4 linked regions of the Homo sapiens genome follow. The protein of the gene in region 1 purifies or fractionates together with the protein of each later gene. This does not show direct contact. Each region holds a gene or a part of one and is shown in the gene's direction. Other genes may lie near its edges.

Region 1 (5,530 bases):
CACCAGGGGAGTGTGTGAGGACAGAAAAGAGTCTTGAGGACCTAGCCCTGGGCACCCAACATAGGCTTCTTGAAATGGGGAGTCAGCAAAGGAGCCTGAGCAGGAGGGGGCATTGGTGTTGGATGGAAGCAGGCGATGGAGATGTTGTGGTGCCTAGAGAGACACATTTAAAGGAGAGAGAGCTCACTGCCGTAGAGAATGTAGGTGAGGGAGCAGGCTTGCGATGGAGAAAAATGGTGCATAGTTTCAACTTTTGTAGTAAGATGGAATCTTTTCATTGCAAATGTTGGAAACTTAGCTAACTAGCTTATACCAAAATAAGGTGACGGGGGAGAAGATGTATTTACCCACAAAGTGGTAGATGGCTTCTGGCACCATGGAATCCATGTTGCAACTAATGCCATCAATCTCAGTCTCTCTCCATCCTCCAAGCATGGACTCTCTCTGTGGCACCCAAGAGAGCTACCTGCGCCCCAGCCCCACACCATACTGCTTAACAACTTCAGCAGAATAGTCTTCCCTCATAGTTCTGGATGATGGGCTGCTGATTGGTTGATGTCTTTTATGCACATATGCTTGAGCTTCAGTGTACCTGGAAAGGGATGGTTCCCTCAAATGGGCCAAGCCTAGGCCACAGACGCTTTCCTCTGGCAGGGGACAGAAGGGACAGCCCCATCCAAACGACCCGGATAGGATTCCCTATGTGATAATGGAGTTCTTTTCTCATAAGAAATGAAGAAACAACTGGTCATACCTAGCATGGCCTGCTACTCAATCCAAAAGATTTTCCGTACAAGGAGGTAAAATTACATACTAGAATGCCCATCACAATTTAACAGGGAGATTGTTTATGAAGATTTGCAGTTTCCTTGCAGCCATTTAACTACATCTTTTCCACTTAAGATGACATAGGAATCACTCATCACATCTCTGATATGTTACAGAGCCCAGTAGATTTGTTTATAATGAACACCTCAAAATTATATGTTTTTATAACACCTTAAAACTATTAAAACCTGCATGATCTCTCTATTTTGCTGGTGTGAAACCATGTAGATAGATGGTGGGAACTCAAACCCTTACCATGGCAATTTAGTTAACCTCAGCTTCTTCATGGTAAAATGGTAAAGTGTGATGAGGAGGGAAGGTTAAATGGATAATAAGAAAACCACCTGGCAAACTATTTTTAATTATGATGGAAGATTTGTTTGAACTGTTTTAACTTTATGCCCACTCAATATTTTTGATATTTATGTATAAATCCTACTTTCTGAACATTTCTTAAAAAACAATCTCTGTTCTTAAGGAAGTTCCAAAATATTGTTATTTAATCAAAATGAAGATGATAAAATTAACTTTGAGTTATTTTTCTTTTTTGTTGCTTCAGCTTTAGTTTTGGTCCAGAAAGCATTTTCAAGGAGCTGGTCAAGCATGGCTTTAGCAGATAAGAGACTTGAGAACTTACAGATCTACAAAGTTCTTCAATGTGTGCGGAACAAAGACAAGAAGCAGATAGAGAAGCTGACCAAGCTTGGATACCCTGAACTAATCAATTATACAGAACCCATTAATGGACTTAGTGCTTTGCACTTAGCCTCAGTTTCCAATGATATTGATATGGTCAGCTTTCTCCTTGACCTTGGTGCTCACCCTGATGTGCAAGACCGAATGGGCTGTACTCCCACAATGAGGGCTGCAGAACTGGGCCATGAATTGTCAATGGAAATATTAGCAAAGGCAAAGGCTGATATGACTATAGTTGATAATGAAGGAAAAGGTAAAAATCCCGACATCCTCTCCAGCAGATTGCAATTCATTTTGTAGCCAGAAAGCAATAACATGGACTCTTTTTGTTTTCCAACTTTAGAAGTGAATTACTTATGGTTTTAAGGGAAAGGCTAAATTCTCACTCCTATACCTAAACCTACTGTCTCCTCATACTTTGAAAATGAGATAGCTATATCTTAGGGAAATCATTTATGAGAGCTTGCTCATATACTTAGATTAATTTGTGTTTGGTGGTTTCTTTTAAATGAGGAGAATTTTGAACATTATACACACTGATTATTCATTATAAATTATAAACTCTTCTTTAAAACAAAGATGAAGTAGAGCATTTCTTATTCTTTTTTACATTTTAGAATTTCAGGCAGTACTACACCTAGGACTCCAAAAGGATTTTGACCCCCTCAATAGCAGTCTGATGTAGGAAGGACTTGCACTTGGAAACTTGAAAGGACTAAAGTCAATTCTGGCATAAACTCCAACTTTCTAGGATCATTTAAAAATGTATTTGGAAATACAACTTCAAACTTTAGACATGACCTTTCAACAATGATTCAGATCAAACAACTGCACTTCCACACCGTTAATCCCATCATCTCAAGACCATGGTCTGAGGACTTCTTGCCCAAATAACTTAAGGTTCAGGCAAGAATTGACACAGCCTCATAAAAATAACTGAGATAATTACCAATAAGCTTAATGTAAACTGATAGGTTTGAGCAGTTGTCCTGAGTTTCTGCAGATACAAGGCCATTAACATCAGCTCTGCAATCGAGAAATGAATCTCATTTGATAATGTGAATATTTACTGACAAGAGCAAAATCTACTTTTCTAACTCTCTCCAGACTTGGTGTTTGATATGATTACTTGCTTAGAACAAAAGAGGACAAAGAAAAGGGATAATTACATATTTAATTGTACCACGTAAGAAAATAAACTTCAGATGCATTCAGGGGCCAGATGTACTTTGAAATGCTAAATCCTGAAAAAACGGTATCCTCTCAAAGCTCTATAGTATACCATTTCCCAAAGTGTGTTCCATGGACCACTGAATTGCCAGGATGTTGAGAAGTACTACAGGCAAAATTGGTTCCACGGTCGCATTCATTAGAGACACATTTTAGGCATTTATCTTTCACATTGTTGGCTCAAAAATGGTGACATTTTCCATATTTATTTGACCACAAAATAATTTTTTTTAATGACATCTTATATGCCTGGAGTTTTGTGGACTAACCTTTGGGAAACACTATAATAGAGAAACGTTTAACTTACTGAGTTTGAAACAGATACAAATCACAAAGAAAAAAGAAATTCTATAGTGTAACAATGTAAAAGTGTAAATTTTTTTTAAAAAATCAAGGTAAAATTGGAAACAAGGTCAAGTAAATACTTGCAGCAAATGCAACAGGCATATGGCTAAAGGAAACAAATCTCATGGGCAGAACTGAAACTATAAAAGGAAACAAATGTAAAATCTTGTTTCACACATAAGCTTGTTAGGATGGCTGCCTGCAGCCCTCACTCTGCATAACCCAAGGTAGTGCCCATTGTACAGAGTACATTGTCTCTTCCCACATCAACAAGGCTCACTCAGCTTGCACATCCCTCAGTTTGGCTGCCAGTGGCCAAAGTGCTTTGCTTATTCCACAGTACCCTCTCTGTCATTGACATCCTATTTTCTGGTGACTCATGTTTGACTCACTGTACATCGTTCCTAAAGGATAAGCAAACATTTAAATGGCTAAGTGGGTCTTTAGGATGTGAGACATGCCCTAGGCCTAAGCGGCACTTTCTCTTGGAACAGTTTTACAGAATATGGAGAAGGTAAAGCTCTAAGCCAATACATTCTTTCTTGTATGTTGTCCTAGGGAATTAATTACAATGTGGAATCATTCTCCTTAAAAGTTAAGCTATAATAGTTCCTTATAGCACCCATTCCCATTCCATTGGTTTTTGCATTTACAGGCATGTGTACTCAGTCCTCAATGCCGTATGCCAGTTCTATGATAAGGTACAATATTTTTCAAACTGTTTTCCCTTCAATTTAGGAATGCTGATTCGTGTTCTTTGTGGCTTAAGGAGTCAGCCCAGATACACTTTAACTGTGTGTTGCACATGCCATCATTATGAAATATTCATTTCATAAGTGGCTCTGGGCCTTTTGTAATGAATTCAGCCTCCTCGGGTATTATGCTTAGGTTGTTTTGCTGTTGCTGTTGTTGTTTTGCTCTGTTCCTGCCTTCTATGTCTTGCTCTTTCTTTGACTTTCTCTTTTCAATAATAACCTTGACAATCTTTTCTTTTTTTTTTTAACTGTTCTGAGTAACCCTACTTTAGGTACATCAGTTTATATAAAATATATTTAGGTTTTGATTTTCATATACATTTTATTTTTTATTTTAATGGTGGAATTTATCCAATTTATAGTTATCTAGATTTCCCATAGGGTTGGTTTCAGAAACATCATTTATTTTATATTGTGAAGGCAAAATATATCTAATATATAAAATACATGTGAAAGTATTGTCATATATGGTCCATAGATTTGTTTTACTTTGCTGTATATGTGTGTTTTTCTTTATATGCTTGTAAGTGTATTTTCTAAAATTGATGGGCTTTTTAGTTATTTTAGTTTTTTTATTTTTTTTTAGTTATTTTAATGGTTAACTTGATACTTCATATGCCCTTAAACCTGTTTATTGAGTTAGCATCTTAAACAGTATTCATTGATTCTTTACTCTGTTTAGTAAGATTAGTACAATAGTATAAATTAGATAAGATTAGTACAATAACCCTTCCTCTTACCTCTGCTACTTCCCTTCTACCACTCAATTTTATACTCAATTATAATTACTTAGTTCTTTCAATGATTCCCTTTTAAATAATAAGTACCTTGTACTTTATTTCCTTACCTGCTTTACATAATATCTCAGTCTTAGCCCTAAAAGATGAGAAGATCAAATACTTATACTATTTCTCCTTCCTTCCCTCAAATTTTTGATAAATTATATTATTTTTACATTATTACAAATTGCAATATATTTTTCTCTATCTAAAATTGCTAAGGTGACTTAGCTTTGGTTCTGTGGCTAAAGAGATTCAGTATTTATGACTGTTCTTTTAGTCACATATTCTCTATTGATCTCTTGGAAAACTCACTTTTGCCATCAAGTAGTTTAAGTCACTTCTTTGGGCTTGTATCCCTGATTACTTATATCCTTAAGACTATACATGTCTGTTGTTTTTACATGAACAAAGTCTTGATTGGGTATAAAAGTTTCCTGTTTTTTTTCCCCAAGTTATAGTGTAGAGATCCTTTGATTATACTGTAGCATTGAATGTTGTTGTGATAAATTTTTGAGGGCAGCTGGACTTTTCCCCTTCATGGATTAGTTGAATTTTTGCCTGGATTCTTATGAGACACTTTCTTTGCCTAGCTTTACCTAGGCATGCCTTGTTGACTGTTCTTAATCAACTTTTCCTAAGACCCAACGTACCCTTTTAATCTTAAGATTCAGGTCTATCTTTGCACTTTCATTTTAGAACAAGTTATATTTAGTTTCTTTGCTATCATGGAAATGAATTAGCCAGTAATTTTCACTGGTATATCTTTTCTAGTATGTATCCTTTTTGCGTGGCTTTCAGTATCAGTTTCCTTTTTCCTTGCAGTATTTTTTTTTAATAGGTTGCATAGTGGTTTCTTTTTTGGTTATTCTTTGAATGGAGTCCCTTTTTTGGAAT
Region 2 (2,780 bases), about 26 Mb from region 1:
GGGGTGGGGGGCCCTAATGGAGAGGTGTGGGTTTGGCAAGAAAGAAGCAACACAGATGTCGTCCCCAAAATGCCAGTTCAAGACACCTTCTCCCTGCCCCCCTGGTAGTAACAGTCAGGGCCTGGTCTGTGCTCAGGTACTGGGTCCCAGTCTGGGACTCTGCTGCTGAAGTTGCCACAGTAGAGGTCCCTGGCTTAGTCCTTATCTCCCTACGGGGCTTGCCTTGGTTTTCAGTCTTCTCTCTCTTTCTCTCTTTTTTTTTTTTTTGCCACATTCTGCCCTTCCCTGACCCCATTGTAATAACCAACTCCATATCCAAAGGGAGGTGGTGCTCTCAGCCATTGTAGAAGATGGTGGCTTTAACCTGACTGTCTAAAAATTCCCAGCTAAGCCTTTTCCTCTACTCTCTTCCTTGTTCTGAATCATTTCTTCTTCTCAGGCCAAAGTAGCCATGGTAAGGAGGCTTCATGGGGCAGACCCTGAAAGATCAAAACTGCATTTGCAAAGCCCTCCCCTGTCCCAGGACAAAGCTGAGACTGACGGGTGATGTTGCTCATAGGCTCCAGCTCTGCATAAGACCTTGGCTTGGAGACCTCCCTCTCAGTCAACAGCTGAACTCTGAGCTTGTGCCCAGAAATTACCCCAAGACCACAGGAACCCTTCAAGAAGCTCCCATCACAAGCTTGGCATTGCTCTCTGCCACACGTGGGCTTCCTCAGGCTTGTCTGCCACAAGCTACTTCTCTGAGCTCAGAAAGTGCCCCTTGATGAGGGAAAATGTCCCACTGCACTGCGAATTTCTCAGTTCCATTTTACCTCCCAGTCCTCCTTCTAAACCAGTTAATAAATTCATTCCACAAGTATTTACTGATTACCTGCTTGTGCCAGGGACTATTCTCAGGCTGAAGAAGGTGGGAGGGGAGGGCGGAACCTGAGGAGCCACCTGAGCCAGCTTTATATTTCAACCATGGCTGGCCCATCTGAGAGCATCTCCCCACTCTCGCCAACCTATCGGGGCATAGCCCAGGGATGCCCCCAGGCGGCCCAGGTTAGATGCGTCCCTTTGGCTTGTCAGTGATGACATACACCTTAGCTGCTTAGCTGGTGCTGGCCTGAGGCAGGGCAGGAAATCAGAATAGCATTTGCTTCTCTGGGCAAATGGGAAGTTCAGCGGGGCAGCAGAATCAGTGGCATTCCCCCTGGTGCAGGCCGGTGGGTCCACTCCAACTCCCCCTGAGTGTAGCAGCACACTTTCCATACACCAGGTTCTTTCTACAATCCTGGTGGAAAAGCCACAGAACCTTCTTCCTGCCCTTCTTGAGAGTTCCCCCTCTTTCTGGGTCAAGAGCTGGAGTGGTGGCTCCATCCTCTCTGGGCCACTTCGGTCTAGGAACTCATCTTTGCAGGAACCAGGAGTCCTGAGCACACTGAACACACCTCAGAGGGAGGATCCTTGTTGTGGATTTTGCACCTGGCTTTGGGGCAGGGGTGAAGTGACCAGGCTTAGCTTGTGGAGTTTATGGGCCACCAGGGTTTGGGGAAATCACCATCCCGCGGATGCTGTGACCTCCCTTCTACGGAGATGCAGGCAGTGCCACGAGGGAGGAGGGGACCTGCAAAGCTAGAATCTAGGGCACTGTTTCCTCCCCATCCTTCTCTTTGTAGAGAATAGAGACGTTTGTCTTGTCTGTCTTCAACCTACTTTTCCTTTTCTCTTTTTTGTTTCTCATCCTCTCTGTGCCACCTCTCCACCCAGGAGGCCATGTAGCATAGTGGAAAAAGTCCCTGAGGGCGGTTAGGAGTTCTGGGTGACCATCCTGGCTCAGCTCCTAACTCACCATGTGACATCAGGCTATCCCCATTCCCCCTCTTGGGCCTCAGTTTCCCGACTTGCAAAATAAGCAGAAAGAACCAGATGCTCTCCAGGGTCTTTTTCTACTTTGCTATCTCATGGGTCTTCATTTTCTCTTATTTTGTTTTCTCTGGATCTTTTCCATCTGAGGGTACAGGAAGTACCAGGACCTGTTTCAGTTTTTGAATCCTGCAAGCACATTCCAAGACTGGCCTGAAACTGCATGAGCAACATCACTCGAAATAATTTTTTTTTTCAAAAGCACCTTAACAACCAATTGCGATGCTGTCCTGTTCCTTTTTACTCACACCCTTCTCTCCTTTCTCGTCCCCATGCTCCCCCACCTCAGTGCTCCGTGCTGTATGCGTGTGCTCTCTGTTCTTGTATACTCAATATAAGTGAAATAAATGTGTTTGATGCTGAACCATACTTCCTTGGCACCTCTCCTCTCTCTCTCTCTCTCTCTCTCTCTCTCTCTCTCTCTCACTGTCTCTCTCTGACTTTGGCCACTGGTACAAGTTGGCACTGTGGGAGGGGCTAAAACTGAAGTGGAGACATCCCAACTTAGAACATGTTTATGCAACAAATATTTGGAACTCAAGGTGGTCCAGGCCTTGGGTGACTCTCCAGGCACAACACAAACAAGACAAAAGTCCCTGCCCTTCATGAACCCACAGGCTAGTGGAGGAAACAGATGCCAACACAGGCAAACAGTCCGTTACAGAGCACTCAGCACTAGGAAGGAAATACACCGGGAGAAGGGAAGGAGGGTCACTGAAGGAGACCACTTTAAATACAGTGGCCAGGTAAGGCCTCCCTGAGGAGGCGATCTGTGAGCTGAATGAAAAGAAGGATCAATCAACAAAGGCGAGGAACTTTGGTGCACATTCTAGGAGAGGGAACAGTAAGCATACAGGCCCCAGGACGTG
Region 3 (5,530 bases), on another chromosome or scaffold:
GCACGTGCCATCGTGCCCTGCTAATTTTCGTATTTTTAGTAGAGACAGGATTTCACCATGTTGGCCAGGCTGGTCTCGAACTCTTGGTCTTACTCAAGTGATCCACCTGCCTTGGCCTCAAGTGCTGGGATTACAGGCCTGAGCCACTTGCCCTGGCCAAGGAACTGTGGTTCTTAATCCTTCTGGTGCATTCAAGTTGAATGAGGGAGTTTATAAACAGTTGCCCATCCTTGGGCTCCACCTGGGCTGAATTGGCATTGACCCTTTAGAACAGGGGTTGGCAGACTGTTTCTGTAAAGGACCAGATAGTAAACATTTTAGGCTTTGCCAAACCTACATTGTCTGCCAACTCTGTCAGTGTAGTGCAAAAGCAGCCATAGACGATACTGAAACTAATGGGCAGGCTGTGCTCCAGTAAAAACTTTATTTACAAAAACAAGCAGTGGGCCTGATTTGGCCTGTGGGCCACAGTTTGGTGACCCATCTTCTAGAATAGCAAATGTCCTCTGTGTCCATTAGTAATACTTATCCTCTGCTAATCAGATTCTTGCTTCGTTTTTAATATATCTTGGGTGCTCTTTTTTTTTTTTTTTTTTTTTTTTTCCTGAGATGGAGTCTTGCTTTGTCGCCCAGGCTGAAGTGCTGTGGCGTGATTTTGGCTCAATGTAACCTCTGCCTCCTGGGTTCAAGCAATTCTCCTGCCTCAGCCTCCCTAGTAGCTGGGACTACAGGTGCGTGCCACCATGCCCGGCTAGTTTTTGTGTTTTTAGTAGAGACGGGGTTTCACCATGTTGGCCAGGCTGGTCTTGACCTCCTGACCTCGTGATCCACCCACCTCGGCCTCCTGAAGTGGTGGGATTACAGACATGAGCAACTGCACCCGGCCTGGGTGTTCTTTCTCAATTACAAAGGTAATACAATGCTTTTTAAAAATCTCATACATTTTGTCAAGTATGAAATAGAAAATAGGTGTCTCAGCTGGGCACGATGGCTTACACCTGTAATCCCAGTACTTTGGGAGGCTGAGGCGGGTGGATCACTTGAGGTCAGGAGTTCGAAACCAGCGTGGCCAACATGGTGAAACCCCATCTCCACTAAAAATACAAAAATTAGCCAGACATGGTGGCAGGTGCCTGTAATCTCAGCTACTAGGGAGGCTGAGGCAGGAGAATCACTTGAACCTGGGAGGCGGAGGTTGCAGTGAGCCGAGATCCCACTGCGGCACTCCAGCCTGGGCGACAGAGGAGACTCCGTCTCAAAAATAAATAAATAAATAAATAAATAAATAAATAAATAAATAAATAAAATGGTGCTTCAAGGAGTACTATAGATGAGAGAGCTAAGATTGTAGAACACTCTAGAGATAGTTGTGGGAAGAGAGCTCAGTTACTCTTCGTATATTTATGTGTATGTCACTTTCTTTTTTTGTTGTCCAACTCCCAAGGTCGCATCCTGAGTCTCAGCTGGCATCCCTCTGGTACCCACATTGCAGCTGGTTCCATAGACTACATTAGTGTGTTTGATGTCAAATCAGGTGATTGTTTTTTTCAGTTCATTTGGGGTGTGGGTTTTGTCAGATTCACATTTCTGAGTTTTCAAAAGCTTGAGCCTTTGTCATGGTTTCATGACCTTTATGGCCTAACATGTCATTAATCTTCTGAGATGTCCACAATTAATTTTACTCCTTTCTTGGATTACTACCACTGCTTTTAGGGGAATCTTGGATCTTCAGTAAGATATAGTATTTTTCATTCATCGTAATAAGAATTCACAATAAAATACTCTGAACTAGTACATTCGTGTACTATAAACAGTAGAATTACCTATTTATAGATCCCAGTCCTTGGTAAAAATGGGCTTCTGTCATTGAGGAACATAAGATTTTTGTAGCATAATTGGTGAAACATGAGATCAGAAAAGCAGAGAACCATGATATTTTCTGTTCTTGGCCTGGAAAATTGGCTTCATAGAATCCTTCATTGATAGGGTTGATCTCAACTTGTTAGGTGGACATGTCTGTATTTCCGTCTGAGATGCAGAGATAAAACAGGTTGGCTGGGCGCGGTGGCTCATGCCTGTAATCCCAGCACTTTGGGAGGCCGAGGTGGGTGGATCACCTGAGGTCGGGAGTTCAAGACCAGCCTGACCAACATGGAGAAACCCTGTCTCTACTAAAAATACAAAATTAGCCGGGGTGGTGGTGCATGCCTGTATTCCCATCAACTCAGGAAGCTGAGGCAGGAGAATCGCCCCATTGCACTCCAGCCTGACAACAAGAGTGAAACTGCGTCTCAAAAAAAAAAAATCCCTTAAGCTTATTACAAAAAAGAGGGAGTCCTTCTATATCTCTCTCACTCTCCTCGAGGCAACCACTTGTGACCCTTAGCTGATTCTTTTGGTATCTATCACTGCAGATCCTAGCATGCTTTTTATGCTACATTTTGATTTTTCAGCTTTAGACCATTTTTTACTGACTTCTGCAACTTGCCCCTCTTTTTCTACCGTCTGCCACAGGCATCCACACTTCCTCCCGATCCTCCCAGTATGGTTATATTATAACTTTGTTCAAATTAGTAATTGATGTTTTCATTATTATGACTATGTATATACTACTCACATAGTAAATTTTCTTTCTTTTCCGGTATACTTATTGTTTAATAGTGTCTCTGTCTCTCTGTCTTACTGATACATTCCCACATTTTTCCAGTTGCATAAATTAGGTTCAAGTCCATCTGATTTTCTTTCTCCACTTTTATCTTTGTGAATAAGTCCCTCCCGGTGCCTTCTGACCCACTCCCATCTGGCTTAGCCACTCTGGGCCTGCTGCACAGCTGTGAGATCTGAAACTCTGATTGATTTTTCCATTGTTCTCGGGATCTCCTTTGCTTCTCTATCGGATAGGATCTCCCATTTCTGTGTTATTCACTTTCTTGGTTTACCCTTTGGTGGATCCTGAGTAAGAGTGCATGAGAAAGAATTCTAGGTTGGAAATTCTTTTCCCTTAGAATTCTGAAGCCCTGGCTCCGCTGTCTTCCAGCTCCTCGTATTATTAGCAAGTAAGCTGCCATTCTGAGAGTTATCCCTTTGTGTAGGACCTGTTTTATTTTTTTTTCCCCCAGGAGCTTTTAGGATGTTTTATCCTTACTGTTATGAAATGTAATAATTAGGTTTCTTGGTATGTGGATCAATTAATTGTTCTGGACACCTGGTAGGTTCTTCTAATCCAATACCCACGTCCTTCAGTTCTGGGGGGAAATTCTTTTACTCTTATTTTTCATTTCTTTGTCTTTTTACTATGCTTTCTGGGAGAGTTTGTCTTTTTTATCTTTGAATCCTCTATTGAGTTTTTCATTTTTGACATTTCCAGAGTTCTTTTTTTTCGTGAATCTTCTTTTTTACAGCATTCTCTTTATGTTTCATTATACAGAAACTCTTCTCTTTCTTTTTTTATTTTATTTTATTTTATTATTATTATACTTTAAGTTTTAGGGTACATGTGCACAATGTGCAGGTTAGTTACATATGTATACATGTGCCATGCTGGTGTGCTGCACCCATTAACTCGTCATTTAGCGTTAGGTATATCTCCTAATGCTATCCCTCCCCCCTCCCCTCACCCCGAAACTCTTCTCTAAGGCTATTAATAATTGTCAAGTGTTTTTCACTCTGCCTGTTTCTTCCCTGTTATTCATTTATTTGTTTCTGTTAGTCCGTTTGGCCTCTGCCTTTCATGTTAAAGGCTTTCCTCATGTCTGGTGATCATCTCATCACTGCATCATGTGGCTTACTGAGCTTGGGTTTCACTGAAGAATGATCTGGCTGGACTGCTTATTTGGGGTAGCCCTGAAGCCAGAATCTTCAGATCTTTTCTTTTGTGTCAGTTATGTTCCTCAGAAATGGTTTTTCATTCTCCTGCCTGGTGAGTATTGGCCTGGCTATCAGCATTCTAAGGGGAAAAAAAAGAATGGTGTTCTCAACATTCAGTGAGAAATGTTCACTTAATCCTGGTTTTCATATACTGCTTCTGCCTGATAGCCCTCCTCAGACAACGTCTCCAGTATTCTGCTGACGTGCATTTTGGGAGCTTCCCACCTTCTTAGTCAGGGCATGGCTATCTGAGGGGTCTACCAGCTGTTAACGGATCCCTCTTTGAAGCCCCACTTACTCCTTTTCTAGAATATCTGGGGTCCCCAATTCCTGAGTCCAAGGATTCCATAGTATAAATCAGGTGGCTTCTTGGCTTTCCTCTCTGCCGACCTGGGACTTAGTTTCAGGGCTCTGCTAAGTCAGTGCCACTACTTGTCTGCTTTCCAGTTCCCCAAATTTTGTCACTGATCTCTCCCTTTCCTGTGGGATTTTGGAAAAGAGCAGAGTGTAATGTGTGTGTGCAGTTGACCAGCTTTAAGTGAATGTCCCAAATGTCTCTTTCCATTTCACCCCACCAAAGGGGTTTCTGTTCTCATTCTCTTCCCTCCCTTCCTCCCTCCCTTGCACCTTCTATCCCTTTCCTGTTAGGCTCTCCCAACACCCCTTCTCTTCAGGTAACCATTTTGGAGTTCCGAGATCAGGTTCACCAGAACTACCATTTATAGGCTGACTGTTCAGTCAGCTCACCTACCATATCATGCTTACCGCAGGCGGGTTTGTTATGTTGTTTCGTAGAGATGAGGTCTCACTTCGTTGCCTAGGCTGGCCTTAAACTCCAGGGCTCAAGCAGTCCTTCCACTTTGGCCGCAGGCAGATTTTGAAGACAGAGAAATAAGTACCATTTGAAGGTGTGCTTTTCTGATTTTTCAGGCAGCGCTGTTCATAAGATGATTGTGGACAGGCAGTATATGGGCGTGTCTAAGCGGAAGTGCATCGTGTGGGGTGTCGCCTTCTTGTCCGATGGCACTATCATAAGTGTGGACTCTGCTGGGAAGGTGCAGTTCTGGGACTCAGCCACTGGGACGCTTGTGAAGAGCCATCTCATCGCTAATGCTGACGTGCAGTCCATTGCTGTAGCTGACGTGAGTACAGTCCCTGTTTAGAGTGGTTGATGTACACCCTTGTGGGGTGAGTTGAGAAAGCAGCCTTAGTGACGTGCCATGAACACTGGTTCCTGATCCTGATGTTGTACTGGAGGAAGATGAGTTTAGGAAAATGCATCTGAAAACCCACATTGTTTCCATAGTACCTAACAATTGGTTAGAGAATACAGGATACTCCAAGAGATTAGTTAGCAGGGAGATTTTCTTTAGACACTGCTCACTTCCAGTTCGTCTTGTTTGATTGTAGATAGGGCACAGCAGCCTAGAAGAATCTGGAGAAGCGCTATGTTTATACCTTTGTATTTATGCATTTATTTTTAATTTAATTAAAAAAATAGAGATGGGGTCTCCCTATATTACCCAAGGTGGTCTTAAATTCCTGGGCTGGGGGATCCTCCCATCTCAGCCTCCCAAAGTGCTGGGATTATAGGCAGGAACCACGGCACCTGGCCAAAATGTCTTATTTAGTAGTAGTTCTTTTTTTTTCTTTTTTTGAGATG
Region 4 (5,530 bases), on another chromosome or scaffold:
TGTGGGGAGGACCTGAGAGGAGCAGGCCAATACTGCCCTGAGAGTTGACATCTCAGGTGGAGACCTAAAAAGGTACCAAATTTAGGACCATCACCCAGATGAAGTGAGGAACCAGTAATTCATTAAGTAAGGAGTCTGATGTTGTATTTAGACGCCATGTCTAGAGAGTGACAGAGTTTGGGTTCTAATGTCAGACTTCCTGGGTTCAGGTCCTGGTTCTTTTTTTTTTTTTTTTTTTTTTTGACAAGGTCTCACACTGTCACCCAGGCTGGAGTGCAGTGGCATGAACATGGTGGCTCACTGCAGCCTCCACTTCCCAGGCTCAAGTGATTCTCCCACCTCTGCCTTCTGAGTAGCTGGGACTACAGGCACGTGCCACCATGCCTGGCTAATTTTTAAATTTTCCATAGAGACTGGGTCTCCCTATGTTGCCCAGGCTGGTCCCTAATACCTGGGCTCAAGTGGTCCTCCCACCTCAGCCTCCCGAAGCGCCAAATTACTGCCGTGAGCCACCATACCCGGCAGGTCCTGGTTCTAACACATGTTGGCTTTGTGTCCTTGAACAAGTTGTCCGGTCTTAGACTTTCCTTATCTACCAAAAGGTGATGTTAATATTGTTGTATTACTCGGGCACAGGGCCTGGTACATGGCTAGAACTCAGTGAGTGTCATTGTCAACATCATCTTTCTCATTGTTATGTCATCTACCAGGTGTTTAAGGGACAGTGGAGATCATGCCATTTCAGACCTGGTGGAAGCAACCACTAATATAAACACCTCCCATGTATAGGAAGGCTGGAGTGGGAATCCTTAACCCCGCCCCCTGCTCAGGTCAATCCCCCACCCACCGCCCCCACTGTCCCTCCCAGTCTTCCTTCCCAGAGGAGAAGGCTGGGTATGAGGAAACTGCTGTCTTTTCACTGGATCAGACGTAAATATTAACTGGACCTCTCTTTAGATTCTTTGCTCAATAATGAATTGTTTTCAGGTAGGTGTCTTACAGGTCCCTTCTCACTGCTTAGCTCCTCTGTGGGCCTCTTACTGACCCTTCCCGCTCCTAACTTTGGTCCCAGCTGGTTTGAGTAGTTGTAGTAAGAGCAAATGGTGATTGCATTTTTTTCTTAAGCACATCGTTTAACATATTTTGAACAGGCTGATATGTGTTCAGAAAGGATATTAGAAGGTACCATTTTTCTGGGTAACAGGAAAAAACGAAGATCTATCATTGAAAGTGGATTTGTTTCCTCCACCAGATAAGAAAGGACCCAGCAGAGCAGAAATCAAATTTGTAGCAGATACTTCGTGTGATTGAGAACTAAACATCCCCTCTTTTCCCCATACTTCTTGTGCCAGTTTTAGTTATAGGAAACTTGGAAAATATCTTCATTCCTCCACTTACCCACCCACTTGCTGAAGTTTTATTGTTCACTGGAAGTTTAGTACTAGTTTCTATTTGTTTTAATTTTTCTTCCATGTGAATTCCTGCCATGGTAATTCTTGATGAACTTGCTCAGGGCAAGGCAGCTTGGCCACACAGCAGTGTGTGGTTCAGAGATAGTAAAGCTTGTTTGGCTGGTGTGTTGTAATTTTCATAATGCACTAGCTGCTACCAAGCATGAGGAAATGTCTTCTGTTGATAATCCTCTGATTTTTGTCCAGACCAATGGATTTAACTTCCTATATATTTTTATGGCCCTGCAAATGGAAAGTTTTTGTTTTTGGGTTTTTTAAGTTTCCTATTTGAAGAGCTTGAGAAATTTTCTAAAAAGGAAGCATTAGTTAGAAGAAACCAAATGTGACATACCAATGCAAGTTGCTTCAGATCATCTAATCTTATTTCATTTGTTAATAATGCTGTAAGATGTACCTCTGAGAAAATGCTGTGTATCAAATGATTACGAGTTTTGTTCCGATAAATGGCCATCTGTTGAGGACCTGCTATGTTGGTGTTGGCACAGACTATACTCAAGTGCTTAATAAATGAATGAGGTGAGTCCCTGTCCCCAAGGGGCTCAGCTGTTCCTTATCTTGTGGGTGTTAACATTGGTAAAGATGAAACAATTTCAATACAGTGTTATATCAGCACAGATAGAAGTTGAATAAACTCCCAGCAGCTGTACAGTGGAAAGACCGATTAACACAACAGGACATTTCAAAAATACATTCTCGTTTGACCAAAGTTGTATACACATTCTGCTTCTGGCTTTTATTTTATATGAGGACATGATTGTAGTCAATGTGAGTTAGAATTGAAATCTGCACCATTGGGTGTCTCTCCAGTTAAGCATGAATCTAATGGTGCTTTTGGGCAAACTGTTGTATTTCCGGAGACCTTAGTTTTTCTCATCTTGTAAAACTGATTTTCTGTTTTTGGTCATGAAAAACTTCATGGTAGAATTCCTTAGATAAAGGCTTTATGAAAATCTGCACCTCTTAATTGGTTAGCAACCACTTCATTACCTAACTACCTTGTTTAAAACTGTATTGAACTTATGACATGTTAGCATTTTAGCGTCTGTAGAACAGCCTCAGGATAATTTTTGACATCAGTTTGAGTGCCAGATTTTAGTTCTTTTAAATAAATGAGGTAGGCTGGGCATGGTGGCTCACTGGTAATACCAGTACTTTGGGAGGCCGAGGCAAGAGGATTCTTTGAGCCCAGGAATTCAAGATCAGCCTAGGCAACATAGTGAGACCCAATCTCTACCAAAAAGAAACAAACAAAATCATGTAAATAAAAATGTATCATATAAATAAATGAAGTTATCTGGAAATAAAGGGAAAGTAAACATTACAATTTTGAAACAAAACTAGAGTATTTTTATAGTTTTATCTTGATAAGTCAACTACTTACCTAAGGCAAGTATTTTGAGAATGGTTGGAAACAACTTTTTAATTATTAAAAAATATGTCCATCTTGTGATTTGGGGGAACAGATATCTTGCCTTTTCCTCTGTTACTGTTATTCATGCTTTCCATTCTCAAAGATAGTTGGCAATTATAAGTTTAGTTAATATATCAGCTAGGTGTAAAGTCATATGAGGGTCTACTCTGATAGTTGCTGGGATTAGAAAATACAGTCTGAGGTGAGGTGGATTAATGTTTAAAGAAAAGAAATTCTGTTTTTCTGGCCCCACTGGTCTCATATGCAGAGGTTTATATTAGGTCGGGACCTGACAATTAGTTCTGCGGATTTTTCTGTTTTTCTTGGACTCCTCAGAGAAAACAAAGTTGAATGCTGGTATTTAGTTAGAATGAAAGATTATGATACCTTTTCTGTATAACAACTTTATGTGCTTCAGTTCACTCATACCATAAAATCTGTTTATTTATTCTTCACTAAGTGGAATTTTGGTATGTTTGGGTTATAATTGAAAGGCATTTTCAATTTTGATTCTCTTAGCAATTAAGAGAAATTTCTCTAGCTCAGATGTCTTTTTTTTCCCCCTCCTGGTCTTTCTAGTTAGTGTGAATAGATTGGGGTTCCATGATGGTATTAAATTCTGTGGTATCATCAGAAAGGTATTTGGTAACCACCTATCTCTATCTCTAGCTTACCCATGAAGCCACCCAAAGCTAACTAACTGGAAGAGATGTAAAAGATGGTGTCTTTTAGTCTAGTTAACTTTTCTGGTCTAATTATTTTAATGCAGCTTCTTATAACAAACCTTCAGTTGTGGTGGAACCAAATGCTGATCTAAGGGTTTGAAAGGCCTTGGTGGTCTTTAAGAGAAAAGGCCACCCAAAAATCAATCAGCAAAATCTTTTTTTTTTTTTTTTTTTTTTTTGAGATAGAGTTTTGTTCTTGTTGCCCAGGCTGGAGTGCGATGGCTTCACTGCAACCTCTGCCTCCTGGATTCAAGTGATTCTCCTGCCTCAATCTCCTGAGCAGCTGGGATTACAGTTGCCTGCTACCATGCCTGGCTAATTTTGCATTTTTAGTAGAGATAGGGTTTCACCATGTTGGCCAGGCTGGTCTCAAACTCCTGACCTCAGGTGATCCGCCCGCCTCAGCCTCTCAAAGTGCTAGGATTATAGGTGTGAACCACTGTGCCCTGCCACGAAAACATTCTTGAGACGAACTCTGTGTTAGCGAACAACCCTAACAGTAAAGGGTTTTTGGAATATTTCTCTTCTGGGACTATGGCTTGAAGTTTGAGGGATGCTGTAAGTGCTGTACATGGAAGTTTACCCCAATTCTCAGAATGATTCTTTGCAATGGATAGTTTTAAGATCATGGTGATGGGACTCTGTGGTCGCCAAAGCTTCACTTTACCCTCATAGGGCCAACCTTCCTTTTCTTCCTCAAGTTCCAATGTCACTTTTAGAACCCTCAGATACTTTTTAAATTAGCTCAGACTTTGCCTTTTTTTCTGAGTGATGGTGAATTTTAGACATACAGAAATGTGGAATAATAGAGTGAATACTCGTGTACTCCCCACCCAGTGAAGAAATAAAATACTATATATACATTTAAAACCACCTATGAGTCCTTCCTGATCTCATTGCCTCTCCCCACAGAGTGACCACTATTCTGCATTTAGTGTTTATTGTATATTTTTATATTTTTACTAGATTTGTATGCATTCATAAACTAGATATAGTGTATTTTTTCATGTTTTAAACATGCTTTATAATATTAAACATTCCTCTCAGTTTGCTTTTATTGTTTAAATTGTGATTTTGCTATTTATCCATTGAGAGACACATAATCCTAGTTTATTTTAACTGCTGTATAACATTCCATTATATAAATATGCTATGACACATTCATTTTAATGTTGTAAGCAGGTTTACAAATTTGTGAGTGTGCTGTTTTAATGCAATGAACAGTTGTGAACTCATCTCCCTGTGTATAGTATACACAGTTGACAGTTGACAGTTTCTCTGTGGTGTAAACCTGGAAGGGAATTGCTGGGTCAAAGGAATTTGATCGTCTTCTTTAATAAGTTGCCTGATTGCTCTCCAAAGAAGTTATGCCAATTTGCATTCCAACCAAGCAGCGTTTGGGGGTTCCAGTTGCTTCACATGTTTGCAGATATTTGATATTGCTAGACTTGATGTTTTGCCAGTCTGATGGGTGTGACATTGTGCCTTTGTGGTTTAAAATTTGCACTTTTCCTGTTTGCTAGGGGAGGTTGAACATCTTTTCATGTGTTTGTTATGCTGGTTTGTTTTCAACTCAGGGGCCTGAGAACAGTTTTCCAGGTCTTGAAAGTCAGGATTGTAGTTTTGGTTTTGTCTGAAAACAGGGACAATGAAGAAGGGACAGTGAAGAGGAAAATCAAGGAGACCAAAGCAAAAGTCATGAAAGGTAGGGATGGATTGGAAGATGCAGGTGAAAAAAATGATGACAAGATAATCACTGTGGAGGGGTGAAAACTAGTAACAAAAAGATAATAGAGTAGCACTGAGAAGATACCTTGAATTTTGAGAGTAAATTTGGGAGACCTGCCTGTGCCAGCAAGGCCTTGTTCAAGCCACATTTGCTTTGTTTAATTGACATTGGCTTTAGTGAAAATCGTGTCTGG

Evidence for each region.
Region 2: the proteins of ANKEF1 (region 1) and EPB41L1 purify together in Homo sapiens (affinity purification with mass spectrometry; one large-scale study listed by BioGRID and IntAct). This does not show direct contact.
Region 3: the proteins of ANKEF1 (region 1) and UTP4 purify together in Homo sapiens (affinity purification with mass spectrometry; one large-scale study listed by BioGRID and IntAct). This does not show direct contact.
Region 4: the proteins of ANKEF1 (region 1) and USP46 purify together in Homo sapiens (affinity purification with mass spectrometry; one large-scale study listed by BioGRID and IntAct). This does not show direct contact.

Annotation. Positions count from the first base shown.
Region 1 is NC_000020.11:10,036,871-10,042,400, forward strand, and holds part of ANKEF1 (ankyrin repeat and EF-hand domain-containing protein 1), read left to right. Parts: intron 1-1,387; 5' UTR 1,388-1,431; coding exon 1,432-1,777; exon of another isoform or gene 1,778-3,800; intron 3,801-5,530.
Region 2 is NC_000020.11:36,230,520-36,233,299, forward strand, and holds the end of EPB41L1 (band 4.1-like protein 1), read left to right. Parts: 3' UTR 1-2,280; downstream 2,281-2,780. UniProt on the Homo sapiens protein: May function to confer stability and plasticity to neuronal membrane via multiple interactions, including the spectrin-actin-based cytoskeleton, integral membrane channels and membrane-associated guanylate kinases.
Region 3 is NC_000016.10:69,138,381-69,143,910, forward strand, and holds part of UTP4 (U3 small nucleolar RNA-associated protein 4 homolog), read left to right. Parts: intron 1-1,444; coding exon 1,445-1,534; intron 1,535-3,762; exon of another isoform or gene 3,763-3,810; coding exon of another isoform or gene 3,811-3,919; intron 3,920-4,797; coding exon 4,798-5,009; intron 5,010-5,530. UniProt on the Homo sapiens protein: Ribosome biogenesis factor. Involved in nucleolar processing of pre-18S ribosomal RNA. Part of the small subunit (SSU) processome, first precursor of the small eukaryotic ribosomal subunit.
Region 4 is NC_000004.12:52,651,753-52,657,282, reverse strand, and holds part of USP46 (ubiquitin carboxyl-terminal hydrolase 46), read left to right. Parts: intron 1-743; exon of another isoform or gene 744-972; coding exon of another isoform or gene 973-987; intron 988-5,530. UniProt on the Homo sapiens protein: Deubiquitinating enzyme that plays a role in behavior, possibly by regulating GABA action. May act by mediating the deubiquitination of GAD1/GAD67.